2 separate regions of the Homo sapiens genome follow, and region 1 is linked to region 2. Evidence: fine-mapped expression QTL. A gene starts in region 2. The other region holds a variant in brackets. All regions are shown on one strand. Distances are between the middles of the regions.

What was found.
Region 1: its variant is fine-mapped to the expression of CD300LB in whole blood (TOPMed, PIP above 0.99).

The regions. Positions count from the first base shown.
Region 1 is chr17:74,498,787-74,514,238 of GRCh38, reverse strand. No RefSeq gene overlaps it. Among named protein-coding and RNA genes, the nearest start is that of CD300LB, 25 kb to the left of the region's middle. RefSeq lists an enhancer at 1,523-1,772. The variant C/T (reference allele first, on the strand shown) is at 8,015.
Region 2 is chr17:74,523,278-74,538,729 of GRCh38, reverse strand. It overlaps CD300LB (CD300 molecule like family member b), which reads left to right and starts at 7,255. Exons shown (of 4, transcript NM_174892.4): 1 at 7,255-7,419; 2 at 12,653-12,982; 3 at 15,079-15,151. The coding sequence starts at 7,380. It overlaps LOC107985074 (a long non-coding RNA gene), which reads right to left. Exons shown (of 3, transcript XR_007065902.1): 2 at 6,089-6,183; 3 at 3,851-4,055. It also overlaps a transcript of CD300C not described here. RefSeq lists an enhancer at 10,136-10,205.

The sequences.
Region 1 (15,452 bases), 24 kb after region 2:
GACATCGCCCATCCCATCACCCATCACATGACATCACCCATCACATGACCACTCATCACAGGATCACCTTGTCACATGACCACCTGTCACATGGCATCACCCATCACATGACATAACCCATCACATGGCATCACCCATCACATGACATCACCCATCACATGACATCATGCATCACATGACATCACCCATCACATGACATCACACATCACATGACATCACCCATCACATGACATCACCCATCACATGACATCACCCATCACATGACATCAATGTCCCATAGATAAGCAGAACACTAAATTGATTCTGTAGAGTGAATATGGGATGGAAAAATCCAACTCTAATCATACCCTACTCACCAAGCAGGAAAGACATGCATAAGCTTCACCTGAAAGTCTTATTTTAGGGCATTGTTGTGTAATCCCAGCATTTTGGGAGGCTGAGGCAGGATGTTTGCTTGAGCCCAGGAATTTGAGACCAGCCTGTACTGGCAAGACCCCCCATCTCTATAAAACATTTAAAATAATAAATAAATAAATAAATAAATAAATAAATAAAAACAAAGGCTGTGATTCCAGGAGCAGAATATTTGGTAATGGAACATAAAGAAAGACAAAGGCCAGGCAGGCCATTCGAGGCATCAGTTCAAGTCCATGCCCATGAGCTGCCTCCTGCCTGCTCAGGCAACCTCCCAGGCAGCTGAAATCAGAAAAACAGATGAGGGTCACAAGCATTCAGCTTCCTGGAAAGGAGTGTCCCCAAAATAAATCACTTGAGTTATTGTAGGGTCTCAGTCTCTCTTCTTGTCTGGATGGTGGTCGGGTTCTAGATTTGCAGGAATGAGGACCAGACCCAGGTAAATTCACCAAAGTCGTATCCCAAGAGGAGATCTCCCAACCATGGCCTTTGCATCGTTTAACTCATCAACCTCAGAAGCACTGGGGGGATTGACCCAACCACATGAAACCAGGTTTCCATGGCCCATTTTAGAAGGTAGAATCATCCCCAGGGGCACAGGTAACATATGTCCATCTGCTGGGCCCCAAGCCCAGCACATTCTCCTTAACTCCCACCTCAATGTCACCACTTCATGTCCTCATTAAATCCCACAAGAGGGAGGTCAGAAAGAAGTTCTGAACTTTTTCTGACCTCCCTGCAGTGGGATGAATTTGAGACTCAACACAGGCAGTCGGGGGAGGGAAGAGGAACTTATATCATGAGTTGATAACAGCACTGCGTGACTTGTGCACTCGCCGCATTTTAAAGGCTGGCAGTACCCCATTTTCACAATGTCCATCTCATCTGTCCTCCCTGACAGCTCAGGGTGGTAGGCCAGGCTATTCTTGAGTCCACACTGGACAAGGCTGTAAATAGACTTGAGTCACCTTATTTGAGCTGAGTTCCTTTACCCGTGAAGTACCCTTTGAGTCATCCTTCGGGTACACCCCCTCACCAACCTAAACCTTAGTTTTTATAGCTGCAAGACGGATGGTGCATGACCTCTTCTTCCCCTTTCAGCCCCAACTTTCCATGACTCTGAGTCAGTTTCCATGACTCCCAGTTCAGGCCATTCTAGTCACCAACCAGGCTGGGCTGCCTCAGCCAGCACAAAATTTGAAGCTGGGGGGACTTGCTGCTTCAAAATATCTATAGAGAGTGGCTTTTTCTAAAGTCAACCTCTAAATCTCTGTCCCCAGGAGGAAGGATGTTCGCATTGACAAAGGGTGGAGGCAAGTATTGGGCCCAGTACTAGGGCCCCAGTGATAGGTCCACATTTGAGATAACAGGGAGGCCGGAAGCTCTGCCCTTAGCACACCTTCCTTGCCAGGTGGAAGCTCCCAATGTAGGCTTTGGAGGTCTGTTCCCTCAGGCACGTGGACTCAGGCTGTGCTTCATGCATTGGTCTGGAGCCTTGGAGCAGGCCTGGAAGAGGCTGTATCTCAGATTTGTGTTCTTCAGGATGTTTCTTACCCAGCATTTTGGACACTGAGCATCTGATTGTGAGGATGGAGTCCACACACTGAATGCGTGTGATTCTCTGGTGAGCAGTGTAACTTGAACTCCAGTGGAAGACTGCCAGGCCATGGAGGTGTTGGCAGCAGCCTGGGACTTCAGCTGAAATGTGACTCAGGCCACAGGGCCAGTCAGACAATTCAGGAAAACATGTCCTCAGCAAACAACCAAATAAGGCACCAGGGACCAATCCTGGAGAAACAGGGACCTTTCAGACAGAGAATTCAAAATAGCTGTTTTGAGGAAGCTCAGTGAAATCCAAGATAACTCAGAGAAGGAATTCAGAATCCTATCACATAAATTTAATGAAGAGATCAAAATAATAAAAAAGAATTAAGCAGAAATTCCAGAGCTGAAAAATGAAATAGACACACCAAAGAATGCATCAGAATCTCCTAACAGCAGAATTGACCAAGCCAAAGAAAGAATTACTGAGCTTGAAGACAGGTTATTTGAAAATACAGAGTCAGAGGAGACAAAAGAAAAAGAATGAGAAAGAATGAAACATGCCTATAAGATCTAGAAAATAGTCTCAAAAGGGCAAATCTAAGCGTTACTGGCCTTAAGAGAAGGTAGAGACAGATCAGGATAGAAAGTTTTATCAACGGGATAATTACAGAGAACTTCCCAAACCTAGATAAAGATATCAGTGTTCAAATACCAGAAGGTTCCAGAAACCAAGCAGATTTAACCCAAATAAGACTATCTCAAGACACTTAATAAAAAAACTCCCAAAAGTCAAGGATAAAAAAAAGGGTCCTAAAAACAGAAAGAGAAGAGAAATAAGTAACATAAAAGGGAGCTCCAAAACTTCTGGCAGTAGGCTTCTTGAGGGAAATCTTACAGGCTGGGAGAGAGTGGTATTTAAGTGTTGAAGGAAAAAACTTTTATCGTAGAATAGTATATCTAGTGAAAATACCCTTCAAACATGAAGGAGAAATACTTTCTCAGACAAACAAAAGTTGAGCAATTTTATCAACACTAGACCTGTCCTATAAGAAATGCTAAAGGGACTTGAGGTCAGGAGTTTGAGACCAACCTGGACAACATGGTGAAACCTGTCTCCACTAAAAATACAACAATTAGCAGGGCATGGTGGTGCATGACTGTAATCCCAGCTACTTGGGAGGCTGAGGCTCGAGAATCACTTGAACCCGGGAGGCAGAGTTTGCAGTGAGCTGAGATTGTGCCATGCACTCCAGCCTGGGTGACAGAGTGAGACTCTCCATCTTAAAACAAATAAATAAATAAAAATAAAAAAAGAAAGAAGTGCTAAAGGCTAAAGGGAGTTCTTCAATCTTAAAGAAAAGGATGTTAATGAGCAGTAAGAAATCATCTGAAGGTACAAATCTCACTATTAATAGTAAGTACACAGAAAAACAGATTCTAACCCCTGAAATTGTGTGTAAATCACTTATATCTTGAGTAGAAAGACTAAAAGAAGAACCTATAAAATATATAAAAAATAATAACTATGCTTTTTTTTTTTGAGATGGGGTCTTACTTTGTTGTCCAGGCCTGGAGTGTAGTGACATGACCTTGGCTCACTGCAACTTCTGCCTCCCTGGCTCAAGTGATCCTCCCACCTCAGCCTCCTGAGTAGCTGGGACTACAGGTGCACACCACTACACCCGGCTATTTTTTGTATTTTTAGGAGGGACAAGTTTTTGCCATGTTGCCCAGGCTGGTCTTGAACTCTTGGGCTCCAGTGATCTGCCCACCTTGGCTTCCAAAAGTGCTGAGATTACTGGTGTGAGCCACCGCACCCAGCCTAAAGCAACATTTAAGACATTGAGAGTATAATAAGGTATCAATAGAAACAACAAAAAATTAAAAAGTGGGGGGATGAAGTTCAAGTGTAGAGTTTTTTTCTATTAGCCTTATATTTGCTTGTTTGTTAGCTTGTTATTACAATCAGTGTTAAGTTGTCATCAGCTTAAAATAATGAGTTATAAGATATTATTTCCAAGCCTCATGGTAATATCAACTCAAAAACATACACATACAACAGATACACAAAAAATAAAAAGTAAGAAATTAATACATATCACCAGACAAAATCAGCTTCAGTAAAAAGAAGACAAGAAGAAAAGAAAGAAGGAAGGAAGAGAAGGCCAGAAAACAACCAGTAAACAAGTAACAAAAGGGCAGGAGTAGTCTTTAGTTATCAATAATAACATTGAATGTAAATGGACTAAACACTTCAGTCAAAAGACATGGAGCAGCTGAATGGATTAAAAAGAAAAACTAGACCCAAGATCTGTTGCCTACAAGAAACACACTTCACCTATAAAGACATAAATAGGTGAATTAAAGGAATCGAAAAAGATATTTCATGCAAATGGAAACCAAAAAAGAGTATGAATAGCTATACTTATATCACATTACATAGATTTTAAGACAAAACTATAAAAAGAGACAAAGAAGAACATTATATAATAATAAAGAAATCAATTCAACAAGAGGATATAGCAATTGTAAGTATATATGCACCCAACAGTGGAGCACTCAGATATATATTGCAAATATCTTTATAGCTAAAATAATATATCCTCAATACAATAATTGCTGGAGACTTCTACACTACACTTTCAGCATTGGACAGTGCATCCAGACAGAAAATCAACAAAGAAACGTTGGACTTAATCTGTACTATAGACCAAATGGACCTAATAGATATTTAAAAGAACATTTCATTCAGCAGCTGCAGATACACAGTCTTCTCCTCAGCACATGGATCATTCTCAAGGATAGACCATATGTTAGGCCACAAAACAGGTCTTGAAATATTCAAAATAATTGAAATCATATCAAGTGTCTTCAGTGACCACAAAGAATAAAACTAGAAATCAATAACAAGAAGAATTTTGAAAACTATACAAAACATGGAAATTAAACAATATGCCCCTGAATAACTAGTGGGTTAATGAAAAAAAGTAAGAAGGAAATTTAAAAATTTCTTGAAACAAATGAAAATGGAAACACAACACAATAAAATCTATGGGATACAGTGAAAGCAGTATTGAGTATCTACATCAAAAAAAGTAGAAAAACCTCAAATAAACAACCTAATGATGCATCTTAAAGAACTAGAAATGCAAGAGTGAAGCAAACCCAAAATTAGTAGAAATAAAGAAATAATAAAGATCAGGGCAGAAATAAATGAAATTGAAATGAAGAAAATGCAAATGCAAAAGATCAATGAAACTAAAATAAATGAAATGGAAATGAAGGAAATACAAAAGATCAATGAAACTAAAAGTCATTTTGTTGAAAAGATAAACAAAATTGGCAAGTCTTTAGCCTGACTAAAAAAGAAAAAAATAGAGAAGACCCAAATAAATAAAGTCAGAGATGAAAAAGGAGACATTACAATTGATATCAACAAATTAAAAGGATCATTAGAGGCTACTATGAGCAGCTATATGCCAATAAATTGGAAAACCTAGAAGTGGATACATTCCTAAACACATACAATCTACCAAGATTGAACCATGAAGAAATCCAAAACCTTAATAGACCAGTAACAAGTAACAGGATGCCATGACAAAAAGTCTCTGAGCAAAGAAAAGCCTGGGACTCAATGGCTTCCCTGTTGAATTTTACCAAACATTTAAAGAACTAATACCAATCCTACTCAAACTATTCTGGAAAATAGAGGATGAGGGAATACTTCCAAACTCATTCAACAAGGCCAGTATTACCCTGACACCCAAACCAGACAAAGTCATATCAAAAAAAAAAAAAAAAAAAAAAAAAACCAAAAGTACAGGCCAACATCTGTGATGAATACTGATGCAAAAATTCTCAGCAAAATGTTAGCAAAACAAATTCAACAACACATTGAAAACATCATTTATCATAACCAAGTGGGATTTATCCCAAGGATGCAAGTATGATTCAGCATATGCAAATCAGTGTGATACATCATATCAACAGAGTGAAGGACAAAAGCCACACAATCATTTCCATTGATGCTGAAGAGGTATTTGATAAAATTCCACATCCCTTCATGATTTAGAAAAACCCTCAAAAAACTGGGTATAGAAGGAAGATACCTCAACATAATAAAAGCCATATATGACAGACCCACAGTTAGTATCATACAGAATGGGCAAAAATTGAAATCCTTTACTCTAAGATCTGGAACAAGACAAGGATGCTCACTTTTACCACTGTTATTCAACATAGTACTGGAAGTCCTAGCTAGAGCAATTGGACAAGATAAATAAATAAAGGCATCTGAATTGGAAAGGAAGACGTCAAATTATCCTTGTTTGCAGATATGATCTTATATTTGGAAAAACCTAAAACTCCACCAAAAAGCTATTAGAACTGATCAACACATTCAGTAAAGTTGCAGGACACAAAATCAACACACAAAAATCATTTGCATTTCTGTATGCCAACAATGAACAACCTGAAAAAGAAATCAAGAAAGTAATCTCATTTACAATAGCTATAAATAAAATAAAATACCTAGGAATAAATGTGAAGAAGTGAACGATCTCTACAATGAAAACTCTAAAGCACTGATGCAAGAAATTGAAGAGGATACAAAAAAATGGAAAGATATTCCATGTTAATGCATTGAAAGAACCAACATCGCTAAAATGTCCATACTACCCAAAGTAATCTACAGATTCAATGCAATTCCTATAAAAATATTAGACATTTTTCACAGAAATAGAATAAATAATTCTAATGTTTATATGGAACCACAAAATACCCAGAATAGCAAAAGTCAACCAGAGCAAAAAGAACAAAACTGGAGAAATCACATTACCTGACTTCAAATTATACTACAGAGATATGGTAACCACAACAGCATGGTACTGGCATGAAAACACACATAGAACAATGGAACAGAATGAAGAACCCAAGAATAAATCTACATATCTACACTAAGCTCATTTTTGACAAAAGTGCCAAGAACATTCACTGGGGAAAGGACAGTCTCCTCAGTAAATCATGCTGGGAAAATGGTATATCCATATGCAGAAGAATGAAACCAGACCCTTCTGTTTTTCACCATATACAAAATGGATTAAAGAGGCCGGGTGTGGTGGCTCATGCCTGTAATCCCAACACTTTAGGAGGCCAAGGCAGGCAGATCACCTGAACTCATGAGTTCAAGGCCAGCCTGGACAACATGGCAAAACCCCATCTAAAACAAACAAACAAAAAAAACCCCAAAAAACAGCTGGGCATGGTGTATGTGCCTGTAGTCCCAGGAACTGGGGAGACTGAGGTGGGAGGATGGCTTGAGCCTGGGAGATAGAGGTTGCAGTGAACTGAGATCATGGTACTGTACTGCAGACAGGGCGATAAAGCCAGACCTTGTCTCACAAAAAAAAGGGGGTGGGGATTAAATACTTAAATCTAAGATCTCAAACTGTGAAACTACTAAAAGAAAATACTGAGGAAATTCTCCAGAACATTGGACTTGGAAAATATTTCTTGAGTAATACTCCACAAGCACAGGCAACCTAAGCAAAAATGGGCAAATGGGATCACATCAAGTTAAAAAGCTTCTGTACAGCAAAAGAAACAATCACCAAAATGAAGCAACAATCCACAGAATGGGAGAAAATATTTGCAAACACCCATTTGACAAGGGATTAATAACCAGAATATGTAAGGAGCCCAAATAACACAGTAGGAAAAAATATAATAATCTAATTAAAAAATGGGCAAAAGATCTGATAGACATCTTTCAAAGAAGATCTACAAAAGGCAAACAGGTATATGAAAACGTGCTCAACATCATTGATCATCAGAGAAATGCAACTCAAAACTCAATGAGATTGTCACACACGTCCATGTGAAGAGACCACCAAACAGGCTTTGTGTGAGCAACAAGGTTGTTTATTTCATCTGGATGCAGGCAGGCTGAGTCCAAAAAATGAGTCAGCAAAGGGTGGTGGGATTATCATTAGTTCTTACAGGTTTGGGATAGGCATAAAAAGTACATTCTCAAGGGCGGGGAGAATATTACAAAGTA[C/T]CTTCTTAAGGGCAGGGGAGAATATAGCGTATCAGTTAGGGTGGGGCAGGAACAAATCACAATGGTGGAATGTCATCAGTTAAGGCTATTTTCACTTCTTTTGTGGATCTTCAGTTGCTTCAGGCCATCTGGATGTATATGTGCAGGTCACAGGGGACATGATGGCTTAGCTTGGGCTCAGAGGCCTGACATTCCTGTCTTCTTATATTAATAAGAAAAACAAAACAAAATAGTGGTGAAGTGTTGGGGTGGCGAAAATTTTGGGGGGTAGTATGGAGAGATAATGGGCGATGTTTCTCAGGGATGCTTAGAGTGGGATTAGGGGCAGCATGGGAACCTAGAGTGGGAGAGATTAAACTGAAGAAAGATTTTGGGGTAAGGGGTGATATTGTGGGGTTGTTAGAAGTAGGATTTGTTGCACAGAATGATTGGTGATGGACTGTATGTGTTTTGTATGAATTGAGAAGCTAAATGGAAGACACAAGGTCCGAATAAAAGAAGGAGAAAAATAGGTATTAAAGAACTAAGAATTGGGAGTACCCAGGACATCCAATTAGACAGTGTCCAAGGGGGATCAACGCAATTATTTGCTTGGTTAGTGAGTTTTTGGGCTCTATCCTTGAGTTTTTTTATGTTGTCATATACCAGGCCAGACTGATTTAGGTAAAAACAACACTGTTCATTTAAAAATATACAGAGTCCCCCTTTTTTTAGCAGTGAGTAAGTCGGGGCCTCATTGATTTTGGAGGAAAGAGAAATGTAAAGCCAGCAATTGTTTGTTAAAGAAGGATTAGAAACAGCTAGGAGAGAGTGAGTGAGATTGATAGTGTGGTGGAGATAGCTGCGAAGAGGTAGAGAGGGTGGCATAAGAACGGGAACAAGAATAAGAGTGAGTATAAAAGTAAAGAACAGGACTTCATAAGGGTGAGAGTATTGGAGTGTGTCCTGTCAGCAAAGATCATCTACCCACTCCAAGAGGGAGTCAAGAGTGGTGGATTGGGGATAGATTTTCACAATGGAAAGGAAATGAGAGTTTTTAAGAGGCGGGCTAATGGCTTGTAACCTACATGGAAGAGGTTATGAAATGACGACAGGAATAGAATGGGCTAGTGAGGCTTGAAGGAGATTTTTTTTTTGTCTAAAAACCATCTGCCTTGAGTGGAGAGGGATTGATAGGTGGAAACTTCAGTGGGACAGTAAATAGGAGTGACCAATGAGGAGAAAAACTGGCCATCAGGGACAGAAGTTGGAAAACTAGCTGCCTCTTTAGCTACCTTATCAGCATAAGAGTTGCCCTGAGCAATGGGATCTGATGCCTTTTGATGGCCCTTGCAGCGAATGACTCCAGCTTCCTTTGAAAGTAAAGCAGCTTTAAGAAGAGGTTTTATTAAGGACACATTAATAATGGAGGACTCTTGTGTAGTGAGGAAATTTCTTTCTGCCCATGTAACAGCATGGTGGTGCAGGATATGGAAGGCATATTTAGAGTCAGTATAAATATTGACGCGTAGTCCCTTTGCAAGAGTGAGGGCCTGAGTTAAGGCAATGAGTTCGCCTTGCTGAGAGGGAGTGGAGCAGGGCAGAGCAGTAGCCTCAATGATAGATGTGGAAGATACTATAGCATAGCCTGCCTTTGCTGATGAGTGGTGATTAGGCCTGGTGGAACTGCCATCAATAAACCAAGTGTGATCAGGGTGAGGAATAGGAAAGAAGGAAAGATGGGGAAATGGAATAAATGTCAGGTGGATCAGAGAGATAGAGTCATGGGGGTCAGGTGTGGTATCCAGAATAATGTGGGAGGCTGGATTGAAGTCTGGGCCAGGAACAATGGTAACTGTGGGAGACTCAACAAAGAGTGAGTATAGCCAAAGGAGCCGGAGGGCAGAAAGTATATGCATCAGGTGGGAGGAAGAAAATAGATTTTGGAAGTTATGAGAACTGTACGGAGTGAGTTGAGCATAGTTTGTGATTTTGAGGGCCTCTAAAATATTAAAGCAGTGGCAGCCGCTGCACGCAGACATGAGGGCTAGGCTAAAACAGTAAGGTCAAGTTGTTTGGACAGAAAGACTACAGGGCGTGGTTCCAGCTCTTGTGTAAGAATTCCGACCACACAGTCCTGTACTTCAGCTGTGTGTAATGAAAAGGGTTGGGATGAGTTTTTTAAGGAATGGAAAGAGGAGTGGGGAAAGGATTTAGGATCTATGGGGTCAGCTACATTTATCTAGAACAGAATAATGGGTTGTGGAGGGAGGTATTGAGGATAGGAGAGTATATGGGTTTGGCATCACGGTGTGGATAGGCAAGACAATTTGGTTGATAAGGTGCAGATCCTGAACTAACCTGTAAGACTTTTCCGGGTTTTGGACAGGTAAAATGGAGGAATTGCAAGGAGAGTTTATAGGCTTTAGAAGGCCATGCTGTAGCAGGCCAGTGATAACAGGCTTTAATCCTTTTAAAGTGTGCTGTGGGATGGGATACTGGTGTTGAGCGGGGTAAGGGTGATTAGGTTTTAATGGAATGGTAAGGGGTGCATGATCGGTCACCAAGGAGGGAGTAGAGGTGTCCTATACTTGTGGATTAAGGTAGGGAGACACAAGGGGATGATGCGAAGGAGGATTTAAACTGGGGAAAAGGGCAGCAATGAGGTGTGGCTATAGCCCAGGAATAGTCAGGGAAGCAGACAATTTAGTTAAAATGCCTCACCTAATAAGGGAACTGGGCAGGTGGGGATAACTAAAAAGGAGTGCATAAAAGAATGTTGTCCAAGTTGGCACCAGAGTTGGGGAGCTTTAAGAGGTTTAGAAGCCTGGTCGTCAATAGCCACAACAGTTATGGAGGCAAGGGAAACAGGCCCTCGAAAAGAAGGTAATGTGGAGTGGGTAGCCTCCGTATTGATTAAGAAGGGGATGGGCTTACCCTCCAATGTAAGAGTTACCCAAAGCGTCTGTGATGGTCCAGAATGCTCCCGAGGCACCTCATAAATATATACACCTACTATGACCCAGAAAAACTAAAAATAAAAAAAGCTAAAAAAATCAAGGGTCTCACTAACAGGCTCATTTTAACTAAAAGGGGGCAGCAAGGTGGACTTTTGAGCTAAGCAGTGTTGTGGTCAAATACTGAGTGAGTCACTTAACCTTCTCCCTTCGCTTCTGATCCAGCACAGTGGCGCCTAGGACTATGCATGGGACACGAGGGGTTACTCAATCAGTGATGTAGAGACAGCTGGCTAAGTCTTATACAAACTCAAGTTCTGTTCATACCGCACTCTGTAAGCCAAAATAGTTTCAAATGGATCAAAGATTTAAATACGAAGAAACTACACAAGTTTTAGAATAAACTGAAATCTTTCTAAAGTCTTAGACTATTTAAAAGTTTTAGAATAAACTGAAAACTGCAAGTTTTAGAATAAACTGAAAATATAAAATGAAATTTACAAAAGTTTTAGAATAATGGGTGAATTTATTAGACTCTTGAAATGGAGCATCCTAAGGAAAACTCAAACTTTATAAAGCAAATGATTGAGAAATCTGACCTCAGAAAAAAGATGAAACATCACTGGGTGAAAACACCTTTGAAAGTTTTTTAAAAAATGACAAGCTATGAAGGAAATGTTGCAGGCAATTTGACAGAGAGCTTATTTTCTTAATTTACAAAGCACTCGGAGGAACTCAGTAAGATAGATTAAAAGCTCAATGGCAAAATGGGCAAATGGATAGTTCACAGGAAAAAAACTAAAATGGCAAATAAAGGAATGCAAATTCTGAAAATTATAAGATATTATTTTCTTCTATCAGATTGAAAAGAAAATAGAGTGTGAAAATATCCAATACTGGCGAGAGTGTAGGGAAAGGGACATCGTTGAGTGTTCTTGATGGGAAGGTAAGTGGGTGTAAGGTACATGGATGTGCTTTGGTCAAGAATAGGTTAGCCAGGTGCGGTGGCTCACGCCTGCAATCCTAACACTTTGGGAGGCTGAGGCGGGTGGATCACCAGAGGTCAGGTGTTTGAGACCAGCCTGGCCAACATGGTGAAACCCCATCTCTACTATAAATACAAAAAAAAAAAAAAAATAGCTGGGTGTGGTGGCTCGGGAGGCTGAGGCAGGAGAATCGCTTGAACCTGGGAGGCGGAGGTTACAGTAAGCCGAGATTGCACCATTGCACTCCAGCCTGGGCGACAGAGCGAAACTCCGTCTCAAAAAACAAAAACAAAAACAAAAACAAAACAGGCAGAGGCAAACATCAGGGCCAGCGTGACTCAGGGAGTCTGGCGCGCAGGCGCATAACTCCACTTGTTATGTAATCTGTTTGTGTAAGTGGCTCAGAGCCACTATTGTCTGTAAAAGGTATAACTGCCCTGCTGACGCTGTACATGTGGTTCGGCATGGCTTGTGCCCAGAGGCAGAGAGTAAAACTGCTGACCCCATAAGGGAGAGCCAGGCTTGTAGGCCAGGGAATGCAGCTGTAAGCCTGGGAATGGCAAGAGCCGCAAAGCTGGAGCAGGCAGCCGAGATAAAGGTGAATTGTATGAGAAAGCTTCTGATGAAACTATCACAAGGACAGAAAACCAAACACCGAATGTTCTCACTCATAGGTAGGAATCGAACAATGAGAACACTTGGACACAGGGTGGGGAACATCACACACCGGGGCCTGTCAAGGGGTGGGGGGCTGGGGGAGGGATAGCATTAGGAGAAATACCTAGTGTAAATGACGAGCTGATGGGTGCAGCAAACCAACATGGCACATATATACCTATGTAACAAACCTGCACATTGTACACATGTACCCTAGAACTTAAAGTATATAAAAAAAACTGCTGATGAAAAAGCTGCTGAATAAAACCATATTTTACCTGCCTACAGCCCCCTAAATATTCCTTCCGCTATTCGCCACCCATCCACCCACTCCCCTCAGACCTCAACATGGGCTGGAACCTGACGCTTGGCATGACAGTGGGCAAGAGCTTTTTGAAGGAAAATTTGTCAAGATCTATTAAAAAAAAGTCAATTCATGGACCTTTTGACTAATGCTCCACTATTGGAAATTTCTCCTAAAGATATACTCAGATAGGCCAGGCGTGGTGGCTCACGCCTGTAATCCCAGCACTTTGGGAGGCTGAAGTGGGCAGATCACGAGGTCAGGAGATCGAGACCAGCCTGGCCAACACGGTGAAACCCCATCTCTACTAAAAATACAAAAATTAGCTGGGTGTGGTGGTGCACGCCTGTAGTCCCAGCTACTTGGGAGGCTGAGGCAGAAGAATCGCTTGAACCCGGGAGACAGAGGTTGCAGTGAGCCAAGATCACACCACTGCACTCCAGCCTGGGCAACAGAGCAAGACTCTGTCTCAAAAAAAAAAAAAAAAAAAAAAAAAAAAGATATACTCAGATATATACCAAGATACAGGTACAAAAATACAAAAACATGGTCTGGGATGACATAACAATGTGTGCATCTGTGCATGTGTATACACACGCAGTCATACATGGGGCCTTGTATGACACACAGATACATCGGCATGCATTGTGCACCTACAGCTCCAGTCCCTCCCCCAGCGCCTGACTCATACAGCCAATAGGGGGCTTGTCATCTTTATTTGAGCATCTGTACGCCCAACAGAGTCCCTGTTTCCTCTCCCCAATTCCACCCCAAAACTGCTGCTCTCTTAGTCTTTCCATTTCCGTAAAGGGACCCACCTTTACTGCCCTCCCAATTGCTCAAGTGAAAACCGTAGAAGTCACCTGCAATTTTTATTCCTTTCTTTTCACTCCCTCCCACATCCAATCCTTCAGCCTGTTGGGTTGGCTCTACGGCCAGAATGCATTCTGAGCTTGTCCACCTTCTCCAATGGCCACATCCACCACCCCATTCCAAGGTGCCATTGTGTGACTCCCTTGCTTGAAATTTTTCAGAGTTTCCACTTAGGACAAAATCCACACATTTGCGTATTAACCCTTCCCTGATCTGACCACTGCCTGCCTCTGCCTTTCTGCGTCTGCCTCCCACCAAGCTCCCCACATTGTCTACTCTGTACTCATCTGGCCGGCACCCTAAGCCTGGGACACACTAGCCTTGTTCCCCCTTAGAGCCTTTGCCTGAGCTGTTTCCTCTGCCAGGAATGCTCTCACTCTATATTATTGTGTGGCTGGCTCCTTCTCAAGTCTCAGCTCAAATGTCAGGAAGTCCCTCCATGACCTCCCTATGCAAGCAGCCCTTCCTGCCTCTCATCACTCTCAGCTGTACACAATTCAGATCTTCACACAGCAGTTCTGTGATGATCTGAACGAAGCTTGCTTTTGTTTTGTTTGTTCTGTCTACTGCCCACTAAGATACAAGGACCAGACAGAAGGGGCCTCATTTATCTTCTTCACTGCTATGTCTCTGCTGTATAGCTCCATGGTATATAGTAGGTATTCAATAAAAGTCATCAAGTAAATGAGTAAATAACGGAATGAATTAAAACTGTGGAATCACATATAAAAGAATGAGGTAGATTTGTGTGTACTTGTATAACAAGGTCTCTAGGACATATGCAAAAGTGAGGTATGAAGAATTATGAGCCCCTCCCCCCACTTTTTTTGGAGATGGAGTCTTGCTGTGTCGCCCATGCTGGAGTGCAGTGGCGCGATCTTGACTCGCTGCAACCTCTGCCTCCTGAGCTCAAGCGATTCTCCTTCCTCAGCCTCCCAAGTAGCTGGGATTACAGGTGTGTGTCACCACACTTGGCTAATTTTGTATTTTTAGTAGAGACAGGGTTTCACCAAGTTGGCCAGGCTGGTCTTGAACTCCTGACCTCAGGTGATCCGCCTGCCTCGGCCTCCCAAAGTGCTGGGATTACAAATGTGAACCACTGCGCCTGGATTAGCCCTTTTGAAAATAATTTTGAAATAATAATAAGTTTTCTGAAAGCTGTGTAAGAAATGGCTAACAGTAGTCACTTTTGTGGAATGGTACTAGGGGTAGGGTAGGAGGAAGGAGACTTTTTTGTTAATTTTATAACTTCCTGTACTGTTTTAATTTTCTGTCCATTGCACATGGGTTTAAAATTTTTTTTTTTTTTTGTCCTGAGATGGAGTCTTGCTCTGTCACCCAGGTTGGAGTGCAATGGCGCGATCTCGGCTCACTGCAACCTCTGCCTCCCAGGTGCAAGCAATTCTCCTGCCTCAGCCTCCCCAGTAGCTGGGATTATGGGAGCTTGCCACCGCGCCTGGCTAATTAAATAATTTTTACTTTTCTTTTTGTGTGTGTGTTAAGAGACATCATCTGGATATGGAACGATACACACTTTTCTGAATTAATGTTATTCTTTTTGTTGTTATTGTTGATTGTTTGTTTTTGAGATGGAGTCTCGCTCTGTCACCCAGGCTGGAGTGCAGCGGCATGATCTTGGCTCACTGCAACCTCCGCCTCCTGGGCTCAAGCGATTCTCCTGC
Region 2 (15,452 bases):
TATCCAGGTTATTGATTCCTGCACCTCTGAAGAGTCTGCTCCTGCACACAAAGGGCTTTGGTAGAGATTCTTGTGGATTCAGGTCCTACCAGGTCCCTGGGTGTCCCCTCACATTGCTGCTATCGCCCTGCCCTGCCTCAGCCCACAGCCCTGAATCTCAAGGCAATTCTTAGGGTGATAATTAGAGGCCATTGGTCTTATGTATCTGGCTGCTATGTCCAGGTTAGTTCTTGATTTTTGTGCCCACAGTACCTTGGCACTGGAGATAGGGGCAAGGTGGAGGGCACCAGGTCTTCCCCTGGGGAGGTAACTCACTGCCTGTCACCGTGTCCCCACAGGTCCCTCCTCAGCAGTCTCCACATCCTGCTCCTGATCCTCCTGGAGCTTCCCCTGCTCCTAAACAAGCTGGGGGCTGTCCTGTGGGTGAACAGGGCTCAGAGAAGCTCGGTGGGGAGGCAGAGTCAGCTGGATTGTGAGAAACAGTAACTCTGATGCCCATCAATACCGCGCCAAGCAACATACTCCCTCTTACATATGGGAATGGCCTTCTGACCAACAAATCCATGTTTCTATCAGAAGATTTGGAGGCTTTTTTCTTGTGATGTATCAGACACACAAAAGAATACATGCACTTTACACCAAGAATACTCTTTAACCTGTGTGTGCCCACCATCCAGTTTAAGTAATAGAACATCATTCATACTCATGAAGCCCCAAACCGCTTGCTGATCTTATGCAATTTCTTTTCTATCCTTCTCTCAGAAAACCACATCCTACATTTTATTTTATTGTATCTTTTTTTATAGAGATGGGTCTTACTATGTTACCCAGGCTGGATTTGAACTCCTGGGCTCAAGCCTTGGTCCTGTCTCAGCCTCTGGAGCAGCTGGGACTACAGGCATGCACCACAGCACCTGGCTCACATTCCGATTGTTATGTTCATCATCATCTTGTTTTAAGGGATTTGCCACATACATGCATATGGATTTCCAAAGGGTATGTTGTTTAGCTTTGTTTATTTTTGAACTTTCTGTGAATAGTATTAGGCATTTTTATTTCTAAGCAATCAGACTTTATCTTTCAACACTTTTTTTTTTTTTTGAGATGGAGTCTCACTCTTTCACCCAGGCTGGAGTGCAGTGGTGCGATCTCGGCTCACTGTAACCTCTGCCTCCCAGGTTCAAGCGATTCTCCCACCTCTGCCTCCTGAGTAGCTGGGACTACAGGCATGTGCCACCATGTCCGGCTAAATTTTTGTATTTTTAGTAGAGAGGGGTTTTACCATCTCCTGACCTCGTGATCCATCCGCCTCAGCCTCCGAAAGTGCTGGGATTACAGGTGTGAGCCACAGTGCCTGGACCATTCAACACTTTATTTTTGAGATTCATCCATGTTGATGTGTTGACGCACTGATGTGTCACTTCTTTGTATTGGTCTACATTCTGTTGTATGAGCATACCATAACTCGCACATCCCTCTTTCTTAAACAGGCATTTAGGTTGTTTCTTTTCTTTCTCTTTTTTGTGCTCTTCTTATTTTCCTCCTTCTCTTTCTCTATCCTTTCTCTCTCGTCTTCCCCTTCCTCTTCCTCCTCCTCTTGTCCCTCCTTTCTCCTCTTTCTACTCTTTTCTGCCTACTCTTCTGCCTACTTCTCCTCCTCCTCCTCCTTTTCTTCTTTTTTCTTTTCCTCCCTCTTTTTTTCCTCCTCTTCCTCCTGCTCTTCCTACCTCTTGGTCCTCCTCCTCTTCTTTTTTCTCTTCCTCCTCCTCCTTTTCTTCCTTCTCTTCTTTTTGTGTTGCCATTACTTATAACGTTATTATGAACATATATCCTAATTTTGTCTGTCCAAAAGTGTCTCCTAGAGTAGAGTTCTAAGGGAATAATTGCTAGGTTTTGCTGCATGTGTGTAATCAGCTCTACTAGGCAAGCGCAAATTATTTTCCAAAGTAACTGCACCAATTTTTGCTTCTTATCAGCAGTGCTCCTGCTTGAATCTTATCAGACTTTCTAAATTTGTTCAAGTTAATGGGTATGAAATGGTATCTCATTGTTTTAATTTGAATTTCTCTGCTTACTAATGTTAAACTCATGCTCATGTGTTTTTTGGTTATCTGAATTTTCTCTTTTGAGAAATGCCTCTTCTAATCTTCATCTACTTTCTGTTGTTTGTCTGTGTTCTTTTTTTTTTTTTTTTTTTGAGACGGAGTCTCGCTCTGTTGCCCAGGCTGGAGTGCAGTGGCGTGATCTCGGCTCACTGCAAGCTCCGCCTCCTGGGTTCATGCCATTCTCCTGCCTCAGCCTCCCGAGTAGCTGGGATTATAGGCGCCCACCACCACGTCCTGCTAATTTTTTGAATTTTTAGTAGAGACGGGGTTTCACCATGTTAGCCAGGATGGTCTCGATCTCCTGACCTCATGATCCAATTGGTAGAAGTTCTTTGCAAGTCTTTTGTTAGTTACTGGTGCTCCACATATACTTTCCTGGGCTATTGGCTTTATGATATCTTTTGAGAAACAGGATTTTCACTTTAATGTACAAATTATTCATTTTCCTTAATGGTTTATACTTTCATCTTGCTTAACCAATTATGGATACTCCCAAATTAAAAAAAAATTATCCTATATCTTCTTCTAAAATTTTTTAAATATTCCCTTTCACAGGTAAGTCCTTGACCCATTTCTAAATGATTTTGTTTCTAGGCTGAGATAATAATCCATTTTTCTGTCTTCCATTTGGATAAGCATTATCCACATTTTCCCAGCAATCTGCAATGCAACCCCTGGCAGGTGTTTATTTCTATGTCTGCTTGGACCTTTTTCTAACCACTCTATTATGTTGAATTTGCCTAATTGCTTATTTTGGAACCAAGACAACATTGTTTTAATTACTATAGCTGTATTTAAATGTCTTGTTATCTGGTAAGTCATGTCACTATACATTGTTCTTTGATATTGGGAATGTCTTTGCAAATATTGGCCATTTCCTCTTCTGCAGAAATTTTAGAATTAACCAGTCAACGTACTAAAAAAGAAAAAAAATTATGTTGAGACTTTAAATGTAAATGTATGAAATTTATCTTTATAATAATTTCTCTGTCTATGAACATGGTATGTAATTCTAATTATTTATGAGCTTTTAAAATGTCTTTTAATAACATTCTATTATTTTCTCCTTGATATTTGCTCATATATTTGTTAAGTGTAATTCTGGATATTTTATGTTTTTATTCTTATTTTGTGGCTTTTTTTTTTTTTTTTTTTGAGACAGAGTTTTGCTCTTATTGCCCAGGCTAGAGTGCAGTGGTGCAATCTCGGCTCACTGCAACCTCCGCCTTCTGGTTTCAAGTGATTCTCCTGCCTCAGCCTCCCAAGTTGCTGGGATTACAGGTGCCTGCCACCATGCCCAGTTAATTTTTTTGTATTTTTAGTGAAGACGGGGTTTCACCATGTTGGTCAGGCTGGTCTTGAACTGATGACCTCGTGATCCATCTGCCTCAGCCTCCCAAAGTGCTGGGATTACAGGCATGAGCCACCGCGCCCCGCCCCATTTTGTGGCATCTTTTATTGCATTTTCAAGTTATTCATTGCATGCATGTAGATAAACAATTGATCCTTACTGATTATATATATTTAGCAACTCTGCAAAAAATCTTAGTAATTGTTTTCAGTTTTATATGTAGATAATCAATTAATCTAGAATAATTTAGAGCTTTGTTTTTCTTTCTAATTCTCATGTCTTTTGTTTCTCTTTCTTGTTGTATTGTGCAGGCTAATCAAAGTGTTGAATCAAAGTAGTGATTTTGAGCAATCTTGTCCTCTTCCTGATTCTAAAGGAAAGATTTTGCCATGGGTTGTAATGGGTTGCTTATAGGCACCTTTTAATTCCTAGTTTATCATGAAAAGTAATGGATTTCAGATAGTGGTTTTTGTGCGTTTACATGATTATGTGGGTTTTCTTCTTTATTCTATTAATGTGATTCATTATATTAATTTTTTTAGATGAAGCCTCATTCTGTCACCCAGGTTGGAGTGCAGAGAAGACGATCTGTTACCCATCTAGAAAGAGAAGTGAGAATAAAAGCATTATTTTAGTCTCCTTCCTTTCAGTATGTGATCCAGGATGGAGAACACAGTAGGGGGCGTTCCCCCAACTATTTTCTTTCCCTGGTTCCTGGATCCTGGCACCCATTTAAATGTGCTGGCCATGACTGCAGGCGTGACCCTCCAAGCCATGGCACCAGAGAAACTAGACTTCTGGGCCCACTTACACTTCCACAAGCACCTTAGTCTTTTATTTCTTTTTGACCTCCTGTGTGACCTGTGTGCTTCCCTAAAAAACAAAACAAAAAAACAACGATTTTAAGAAAAACTACGGGCCAGGTGTGGTGACTTATGTCTGTAATTCTAGCACTTTGGGAGGGCAAGGTGGGTGGATCACCTGAGGTCAGGAGTTCAAGACCAGCCTGGCCAACATGGTGAAACCCTGTCTCCACTAAAAATACAAAAATTAGCCACACATGGTAGCGGGCACCTGTAATTCCAGCAACTTGGGAGGATGAGGCAGGAGAATCACTTGAACCCGGGAGGTGGAGGTTGCAGTGAGCTGAGATCATACCACTGCAATCCAGCCTGGGTGGCAAGAGCAAGACTCCATCTCAAAAAAAAAAAAAAAAAAAAAAAAAAGGAAAGAAAAGAAAAGAAAAAAAAAGAAAAACTACATAATTGGGCAAAGCCTCTTTAAGGGAGGGGGCGTGCTAGATTGAACTTTATATCTTGCTATTATTATGGCCTGTGCTAAAGCATTTACCCTTAGAAAAATGGTTCTGGTTAACTTCTGGACTTAAAAATCCCCTTACTAATTAAGTACCATCTTAATCGGAGACAGAATAGGTGCCTTAAAGGAATGTAGGAACCGAATGGCCATTTTCCTGCCAATGGGACAATATTGAGACTAAAATTTGGCTATGGAAGACTTCTTAACTCCTAACTGCTAAAGGCAGAACTTTCCCATTTCAAGAAGAGGCCTAGAGCCTGATTTCTTTTTCTTTTTTCTTTTCTTGTTCTTTCTTTCTCTCTCTCTCTCTCTTTCCTTTTCTTTTCTTTTCTTTTTTTTGAGACCGAGTCTTGCTCTGTTGCCCAGGCTGGAGTGCAGTGGCGCGATCTCGGCTCACTGCAAGCTCTGCCTGCCGGGTTCACGCCATTCTCCTGCCTCAGCCTCCCGAGTAGCTGGGACTACAGGCGCCCGCCACCACGCCTGGCTAATTTTTTTTTGTATTTTTAGTAGAGACGGGGTTTCACTGTGTTAGCCAGGATGGTCTCGATCTCCCGACCTCATGATCTGCCCGCCTCGGCCTCCCAAAGTGCTGGGATTACAGGCATGAGCCACCGCGCCTGGCCGAGCCTGATTTCTAATCATGCAAAAAGAAGCTGCGGTTTGCCATGAAAAAATATGCTTTATGTAGAGGATTTCTATTTCTACTAGGTGGCACTGTTGGCTTAGAAATACTATGTGCTCACTAGAGACGTGGTAGTGAGTAACCTCACGGTGGGAGAAAGGGGAGAACTCTGTTCCTAGAAGATTGCAAGGGCATCTTCCTGATTTTGCCTAACAGGATTACTTTCCTAGGCTGTAAAACTCGCTACACATTTCACACAAAGAAAGTGTAAGAGACCGCAGATAGAGAAGGAAGGAGAGTTTTGTGACAAGATAGTTGAGGATTCTTTGCCAACACCCAGAATGGGCCGCCAGAGGCTGGGTCCAGTCCAGGGGCCTTTGAATCATGCCAGGGTGTGCTCTGGCCAGAAATTGTTAGTTGCCTTAGAACTTTTCCCAGCCTTGCACAATGGCGAGGTCTTCCCGTGAAAAGAAGCTGATTTAAAACATGGCCAACATTCCCAATGACCCAGGGGTGTTGGGGGGTTCTCCGTGTTCTCAGCAGCAAGCCTCACATTCGAGTCTTCAGTATGGCAGCCAACACTAAGTGTATGTACCCGGCTGACGGATGCCCATTGACTTATTTTATTTTAAAATAGAGGCTAAGAGTGCCTCGGAATGATAGAAGAGATTTTAAGCTCACTCCCATACTTACCACTCCGATGAGTGTCGTACCTTGGATTCCCGGCCAATGCAACAAAATGGTATGGCTCTGATGACTGGAGGAACACTAGGGTCCTTGGTCTCCCACTGGTTTGAATAAAACAACATGGGCACACGTGGAGTGGTTTTAAGGAGTGGAGAATTTAATAGACAAGAAAGAAGGAAGGAAGAGGCTCCCCCTGTTCTGAGACTGAGGGAGGCGGGCTCCAAGCTGAAAGAGGGAACCTCGAGTACGGTGGAAAACAGCCAGTTATATGAGGAGGCTGGAGGAGGCGGTACCTGATTTGCATAGGGCCCAGGGGATTGGTTTGACCAGGTATGTCATTCAAGTAGCCCACGAAAAAACTAGCCTTCCTACCCTAGCCTTTTAATATGCAAATACAGGCGCCATGATGTTCTACACACATGGGTGTATGTAGGGGCGGCCATGTTGCCAGGAACGTGGGGAAAAGAAGAAGAGGCGGGAGTCTCCATGTTTGGGTGGACGCAGTTTCTAATGGCCTGTATTTGCATATCAAAGCTTGCCTGCCCAGCTCTAAGAGCCAGGGCTTTTCTTCTAGACAAGAAACATTTATGGAGCTGCTTTAAAAGAAAAAAAAATCTTCCCAAGCACCCCTTTTCCTATCTACCTAAAATAATTTCTTAATAACTCCTATAACAACAACAAACATTATGAGCCCAGTTAATAGATACAATAACTGAGGCACAGAGATGTTGATTGCATTGTCCACAGTCACGCAGCTTGTAGGTGGTGCTCGTGGGGTTAGAGCCAGGTCTGTCTGACCCAACAGTCTGCATGTTTATGCACTTGGCTATAACACCTGAACAAATGCATGTTCAGGTGTGCCCAGCATGACCCATCCGACATCTGAGTTGGGTGTTCACTGTGGTATAGAACAGCTCTGAAATTGACTCCCAGAGTGTTATACCCCTTGGACCCAAGGCCTGCTAGGCCAGACGCCCCCCACCCCACCCCTTCTGCAGACGTATCTCCCCCTACCCTAAAGACCCTGCACAGTCCCCTCCCTCCTCTTTTTTACATAGTGACGATGCTTAAGCCCTGTGGCGCAGCCCTGCCAAAAAATGACACCTCTTTCGTTTAATAATTAAAAGCAGGAACTACCCACTCTATAAAAGGAAGTGAATGAGTAAGAAAGTCAAAGGCGGTCTAGATGTGCAGAAGGTGCAAGCCAGAGCTCAGGCAGAACTTCCAGAGTGCATCTGGGATCTGCATTTGCCACTGGTTGCAGATCAGGCGGACGAGGAGCCGGGAAGGCAGAGCCATGTGGCTGCCCCCTGCTCTGCTCCTTCTCAGCCTCTCAGGTGAGTGGGGCTGGGGCCTTGGGCGCTTGGTATGACAGGGGCAGGGCAGGAGGCAGAGGGCATTTGTCCTTCCACATCCAGGGAAATGAGAGGTGGCTTTGTGAAGTCATTCGACAAAGGTGCACTGGGGACTGACATCGTGTGCTTCGGGGCCTGAGGACATCAAGAAAAAAGAGGAGGAGAACTGGCCATTAAAGAAGACTCCAGGCTTGAGGCCATGGCTCACACCTATAATCCTAACACTTTGGGAGGCCAAGGTGGGAGGATTGCTTGAGTCCAGGCGTTTAAGACCAGTTTGGGCAACATGGTGAGACCTCGTCTCTATATAAAATGAACAAAAATTAGCTGGGCGTGGTGACCGTGCCTGTAGTCCCAGCTACTTGGGAGGCTGAAGCTGGAGGATCCTTTGAGCTCAGGTATTCAATTCTGCAGAGTTATGATCGCACCACAGCACTCCAGCCTGGGTGATACAGTGGGACCTTGTCTCAAAAAAAAAATAAAGTAAAAAGACTCCAGATGGCTTAGTGGGTGAGACATACACATAAACAATGAGCAATTGCAGGACACAATAAGGCATTGGTGGAGGCGTGTGCGGAGGATGAAGCAGTTCTCTCTGGTGACTAGAGAAAGACTCACGAAGCTGTGCACTTGATGTGCCTTGTAGAAGGAAGGTCAGTCTCTGGAGCAGAGCTGAGAGGAGAACACTCTAGAGAGTTGGGTGTGTGTGTGTGTGTGTGTGTGTGTGTGTGTGTGTGTGTGTTGGGGGACCTGGGCAGAGAGATGGAGGCTTAGAAAGAATGGTGGATTCATGCAGAGGGAGCTGTCAGTGTGCAGGATGTCTTGGAGGTGGCGAGTTGGATATGAGGTTGGAAACACAAAAGACAAGATTATGAAGGCCATCCACGCCAGGCTCAGGAGCTGAGACTTTCAAAGAAAAAACTTCTCAAGAACCCAGGTGGAAAGTGGGAAGGGCTAGATGATCTTCTCCATGGCAAACCTTGGTGGACACCTAGAGGGCATTAGGGGACAATCTAGAATTTTACGCAGGGTGTGCAATGTGTGTGGGCCACACAGTTTTCTGCTGGTGCCTAGGGACTGACCATCTGGCACAGATAGAGCAGTCCACGGAGGGACAACAGGAAAGAGCATGGCTGGGGAGTTCTGAGACCCGACTCCAGTCCTGGCTGGACTTCCACCCTTCAGCCCGTTCAACGGGGCTCTGCTCCAAGCTGACGGCTGCCCTGTCATTTCCATCTCTATCGTTCCTCATACCAACTCTTGACAACATATAGAAGCCTGATTAATAGTTCCAGCCATCATATTCTGTGGTTAGAGAAACCCCCAAATATTTTTTTAAACGGGACTAATTACATCGTGAGCCATTTACAGTTTGAATGACTGAAGCTGGGATTGATGACACTTTGTTCAATGCAGCAGCATCTCTTTTCTGCTGTTAGTGATTGCTGACAAATCCAATTTATGTTTTTGGGTATTTTGTTTTTGTTTTTGTTTTTTGTTTTTGAGACGGAGTTTCACTCTGTCACCCAGGTTGGAGTGCAGTGGTGCAACCTTGGCTCACTGCAACCTCCGCCTCCCAGGTTCGAGTGATTCTTCTGCCTCAGTCTCCCAAGAAGCTGGGATTAAGGTGCCTGCCACCATGCCTGGCTAATTTTTGTAATTTTAGTAGAGACAGGATTTCACCATGTTGGTGAGGTTGGTCTTGAACTCCTGACCTCAGGTGATCCACCCACCTTGGCCTCCCAAAGTGCGGGAATACAGGCATGAGCCACCGTGCCCGGCCCCGAAAAGACTTTTAGATGCTCAGGGCAAGTGCAGCTGATGAGGAGGAGGAGACAGTCTCAGTACCCAACTCAGGCAGCAGTATGGAGAGGAAAGCTGAGGGAGCTGTCAGTGTGCAGGACATCTTGGGGGTGGCGAGTTGGATATGAGGTTGGAAACACAAAAGACAAGATTATGAAGGCCATAATCCTCAGGAGAGGAGAGTTGGGGAGGATGCTGCTGGGGCTGGGAAGACCTCTCCAGATGCCACTGCCATGATCCAGGCACAGATGAAGTTCTGACCTGTTGATGAGCTGTCACTGACAGAGCAAACCCCAAATGTCTGGCGTTGGACATACATCCAAGTCTTCTTTTAAATTTAAAAATAAATAATTTTTTGAAGACAGTGTCTCACTCTGTCACCCAGGCTGAAGTGCAGTGGTGGGCGATTATAACTCACTGCAGCCTTGAACTCTCAGGCTCAGGCGATCCTCCCACCTCAGCCCCCCAAGCAGTGGGGACCACAGGCATGCACCACCACTCCTGGCTAATCTTTTGCATTTGCAGACACAGGGTTTCACCATGTTGCCCAGGTTAGTCTGGAACTCCTGGGCTCAAGCGATCCTCCTGCCTCAGCCTCCCACAGCTTTGGAATTACAGGCATGAGCCACCTTGCCCAGCCTACACACATCCAAGTCCTATTACCACCTTCAAAGTAGAGCGTAGCATGACTGTCTTATGAATAAGGAAGCGATACTTGCAGAGGTTAAGCAACTCTGCCAGGGTTTCCCAACTAGTTCAGTGTCAAGTCTTTCTGCATCAAAGCTCACACTCTCTCTGATGTCATGCTGTCCTTGTGGCCTGCGATGGCAGAGACTGAAAGAAGAAAAAAAAAAACTGAGGAGCATCTCTAGGATAGAGCTGACTAAACTGGCTACCAATCAGCTCGGGGGCTGAAGGAGAGGACAGCATGAAAGAAGATGCCAAGCTCTTCCTGAAGGCTGGGTGGTGGAGCTGCTGGTTTGAAGAGAATCAAGTTGGTTCTGCTGATTGAATGCCATGTGAATTTCCAGTGGCTGCTGTAACAAATTAACATGAACTCTATGGCTTAGAACTGCACAATTTCATCATCTCATTGATGCTTCTGAAGACCAGAGCCTGGCGTGGTCTTACTGGTTAAAATTGAGGTGCAAGTAGGGTTGGGTTTCTTTAGAGCAGTGGTCCCCAACCTTTTTGGCACCAGGATCCGGTTTTGTGGAAGACAATTTTTCCACATCAGGAGTGGGGTGAGGATGGTTTGGGATGATTCAAACGCATTACACTTATTGTATACTTTATATTACTATTATATTATAATATATAATGAAATGATTATACACTGCACCATAATGTAGAATCAGTGGGAGCCCTAAGCTTGTTTACCTGCAACTAGATGATCCCATCTGGGGGTGATGGGAGACAGTGACACATCATCAGGCATTAGAGTCTCATAAAGTGTGTGCAATCTAGATCCCTCACACACGAAGTTCACAATAGGGTTCTCACTTCTATGAGAATCTAATGCGGCCGCTGGTCTGATGGGAGGCGGAGATCAGGTGGTAGTTTGAACAACGGGGAGTGGCTGTAAATACAGATGAAGCTTCGCTTGCTTGCCCACCGCTCACCTCCTGCTGTAAGGTCCGGTTCCTAACAGGCCATGGGCTGTTACTAGTCTGTTGTCCTGGGGTTGGGAACCCCTATTCTAGGGGAGAATCTGTTTCCCTGCATTTTCCAGCTTCTAGAAGCCATCTGCTTTCCTTGGCCGGTGGCCTCTTCTTCCACTTCAAAGCAGCAACAGACCATCTTCCAATTGGACTCTCCCTCAACCCTCTTTCACTTAGAATATCCATGGAGATTATTCGGGATATTCTTCCTGTCTCAAGGTCCTTAACTTCATCACATCGGCAGAGTCCCTCTGGCCATGTCAGGGGACATATTCGCAGGTTCTGTGTATGAGGATGCCAACAGCTATGGGGGACATTATTCTACCAACCACGAATGCAAAGTTCAAGAAAACTAACACAGCTTCAAGGAGAAGGCCCAAGCTGTGAGGAGGCGGCATCTGCCTGGAGAAATAGACCTGGCTTTCTCCACCCTGCAGAGACCCCTGGCCTGGGCCTGAAGCTCTGAGGCCAAGAGACAGTCAAGAGAGGCTTCCCCTGTGATTCTCTGCCTGTTTATCCACTTCTGCGTGATCAAGAAACCCGTGTCATTGCCAAGGAAAGAGCCTATCTACACACAGCCTAACTGGAGTCAATCAGCGGAGGCACGGACTGCCATTTGATTATGCTCACCTCTAACCTGTTCAGCTTTCACCAGGCCTTTGTTACTCTTGCCACATCCAATTGCTCCACTAGAAAAAAATACTGAAGAAGAGTAGTTCAGGGTGGGAGAGGAAGTGCATTCAATTCTGCAACGAAGGAATCTGGGGTGGAGACATCCAGTGTGTCTTTGTAAATGGTGGGCTAGCTAAGGGGAGTCTGAGCTGCAAATATGGATTTGGGAATCATCAGGAAACAGGTAATCATTAAAGCCATGGAAATGGAGAGACTCCCTCCATGGAGGCTTGTCAGGTGAGACAAGATGAAGGCTGGAGAGGGAACCCTGGGTACCCCCGCAGTGTGCTGGGGCTGGCTCACAGGAGCTGGCTTGGGACATCTTTTCCCAGCTCTGTGTCCAGTGACATCACATGGATTACCTGACATCTGCCACCGTGGGAGTATTTACACTATGGAATTTGGCAAATATTAAAACCAGATTTTTTTTCTTTTTCTTTTTCTAGACAAGAGTCTCACTCTGTTGCCTAGGCTGGAGTGCAGTGGTGCGATCTCAGCTCACTGCAACCTCCGCCTCCCGGGTTCAAGCAATTTTCATGCTTCAGCCTCCCGCATAGCTGAGACTACAGGTGACTGCCACCACGCCCAGCTAATTTTTGTATTTTTAGTAAAGACTGGGTTTCACCATGTTGGCCATGCAGGTCTCGAACTCCTGACCTCAGGTGATCTGCCCACCTTGGCTTCCCAAAGTGCTGGGATTACAAGTGTGAGCCACCGTGCCCAGCTCCTAAACCAGAGATTTTTTCCCCCAGAGGGCTGGTTGTTAAATATTTGGCTCCGATGAAAACAGCATTGAGAGGACAAGGAAAGAAGGTGGTAGGAGACCATGGTGTCACATGCTAAGCAGGTCTAGAAGCTGGTGGGGGAATGGACTGAGAGGGAGATGGGGATGAGGAATCGGGTGTGCTAGAGACACACTCGGGACTCTTAAACACCAAACTGGCTCAGGCAACAGGAGCTGTATCTTGGGATTTTGTTTTCCAGGCTGTTTCTCCATCCAAGGCCCAGAGTCCGTGAGAGCCCCAGAGCAGGGGTTCGTGCCGGTGCAATGAGCTGTATCTTGGGATTCTGTTTTCCAGGCTGTTTCTCCATCCAAGGCCCAGAGTCTGTGAGAGCCCCAGAGCAGGGGTCCCTGACGGTTCAATGCCACTATAAGCAAGGATGGGAGACCTACATTAAGTGGTGGTGCCGAGGGGTGCGCTGGGATACATGCAAGATCCTCATTGAAACCAGAGGGTCGGAGCAAGGAGAGAAGAGTGACCGTGTGTCCATCAAGGACAATCAGAAAGACCGCACGTTCACTGTGACCATGGAGGGGCTCAGGCGAGATGACGCAGATGTTTACTGGTGTGGGATTGAAAGAAGAGGACCTGACCTTGGGACTCAAGTGAAAGTGATCGTTGACCCAGGTAAGAACTTTCTCATCTACACAAGGAGGCCCTGGAGCTCAGGGCTGGGAAAGTCAGTGCTCTTACCTGCTCCCCTCCAAGGCTGAAAGGGAATGATGGTGAGCCTAAGAGAGAGAGAGAGAGAGACAGACAGACAGACAGGCAGACAAACTGACTGGGAAGGAGGTGACAGAAACTAAGGGAGAGTGGTGGCCAGCATCGCTCTGCTATCTCAGTCCCTGAGGTCTCTCCAAGGAATCCAGGTGGGGCTTGGGATGGGGGTGGGAATGGGGACCTCAGCTTTGGTGACTGGTGGCCCAGCCCTGCTCATGACATGGCAGAGAAGGAACCTAGAGCTGCCCAGGGGGTCCTAGTATTGAGTCCCACTAACTGCACCAACCCAGAGTAGCTCTGGGTGTCTTACAACACCCTCCTCTCTAGGTCCCCAGCCACCTGCTCCGCTACTTTATCTGGCTGTGTAAGATGAGCACGGGGTAAGAAAGCCCCAGGGAGGTGCATGGGTGACAGTGGACGCTTTAAAGCAAAAGGATGGCTTCCATCACGGGCAACGTCAGGGACCACTCTGGGTGCCCTGGCTTCTCCTCCATGCCTTGGACTCTACTGATAGACTCTGGGGTCATCCTGCTGCTGTTGCTGGAGTCTGGGAAGCAGCCCCCAACCCCCACTTCCACCCGCACACCCCTACTCAGTACTTCATCAGCTCAGTGTCCACTCGGGTCCATTTGGTGGTGATGTGGAAATAGACAATGCCGGCTTTAGAACAAGCCTGTGTACTGTTGGGGTTGGGACCAAAGAGGCACATGGACACAGTGGCTGCAGCTGAGTAAAGAGGAGTCCAGAAAGGGTCAAGCAAGACTTCCCCAGGGCTGCCAAGTAGGGGAAACCCAGAATATCTATGGGGGCAGAGAGGGGATTGAGCAAGACATGCAGGCGGTACAAAGAGACAAAAAACAGTGGCCAGTGTGGAGCTTTAGGGAGAGAGATGTTCCGGAGTCTTGGGTGGGGGATCTACAGGGGTACCAGCCTGTAAAACGATCAGGGGCTCCATAGGAACTGTTGTGATTGGAATTACCTGCAGCTCAGACAGGAGCCCACCTAGTGTGGCCAAAGCCTGGGACTTTTTTGTTTTGTTTTGTTTTATTTTGTTTTGTTTGTTTTTTGAGACAGGGTTTCAGTCTGTAGCCCAGGCTGGAGTGCAGTGGGGTGAACTTGACTCACTGCAGCCTCGACCTCCTGGGCTCAATCAATCCTTCCACTTCAGCTTCCTGAGTAGCTGGGACTACAGGGGCACATGACCACGCCTGGTTCATTTTGTATTTTTTGTAGAGATGGGATTTCACCATGTTGCCCAGGCTGGTTTCAAACTCCTGGCCTCAAGCGATCTGCCTCCCTTGGTCTTCCAAAGTGCTGGGATTACAGGCGTGAACCACCGTGCCTGGACAGCCTGGGACCTTTGAGAAAAATTTGCTGGGGCCGAGGACTGAAATAAAAGATCACTGTTGGGTCATGGATACTCAGTGCTGGGCTGGGCTCAGGGCCCCCCTGACCAGACTGCCCCCAACAAATTGCCTATATGGTTGCTCCTAAAAATGTTCCGTTTCTCATAGTCGATGTTCTCTAGTTAACTGGAGTGTGCCCTTTTCTTCATGAGCCTTCTGGAGTCCCCTTTCCCTTTTTCTGGACTACCCCAATTTCTGGACAGCCCATTTCCAGAATCTTCTCTCCTTAAGCCCTGCTCAGGCACCACTCCAGTGGAAAAGACCAGAAATTTATTTCCCCATCCAATAGTCCCACTTGCAGGATAGGTGGAAAGAAAGTATGAAAAAACCTCTCTCTCCCAGAATAAACTACAGTGTTTACTCCTGTTTAATTTTTAATTTTTCTTGCCACATCTGAACATGATGAGGAAAAATGTCTGTGTGTTGAGATTGAAGTGACTCAGTAGAAGCATGAGGGGCTGTAGCAGGAGAGAAAAATCCTCCTACTCCAGGGAAAAGGGTCTTCTGGTGAGGGCTGGCAGGGTCGCGTGGCTTTGTGACCCATGCATGAGCTCCCAACTGTGCTAATAACCCATGGCTGACTTTGCCTGTGTCTAGAGGGAGCGGCTTCCACAACAGCAAGCTCACCTACCAACAGCAATATGGCAGTGTTCATCGGCTCCCACAAGAGGTGAGTCATGTGGTTCTTTCTCCTGCCCCTACCTGGGGTCCCTCCTAAGGGGAAGCCAAGCCTGGGAACTCCTGCCTGTCACCAAATGCCAGCACCTGTTCTAGCCAGAGTCAAGGCCCCAAGCCCACCCTCCATCTCTCTCCTGCCCCCATCACTGCAATCCACCATCTCCCCACTCTAGCTCTCACCAGAAAACCGCTCTGCAGAACTCTTCTCAGTGAGCATCATTCTCCCAGTCAATCAGTCAACCTTGCATTGGTGGCCTAATGGGTGCCAGGGGGAGATAAGATACCACCCTCTG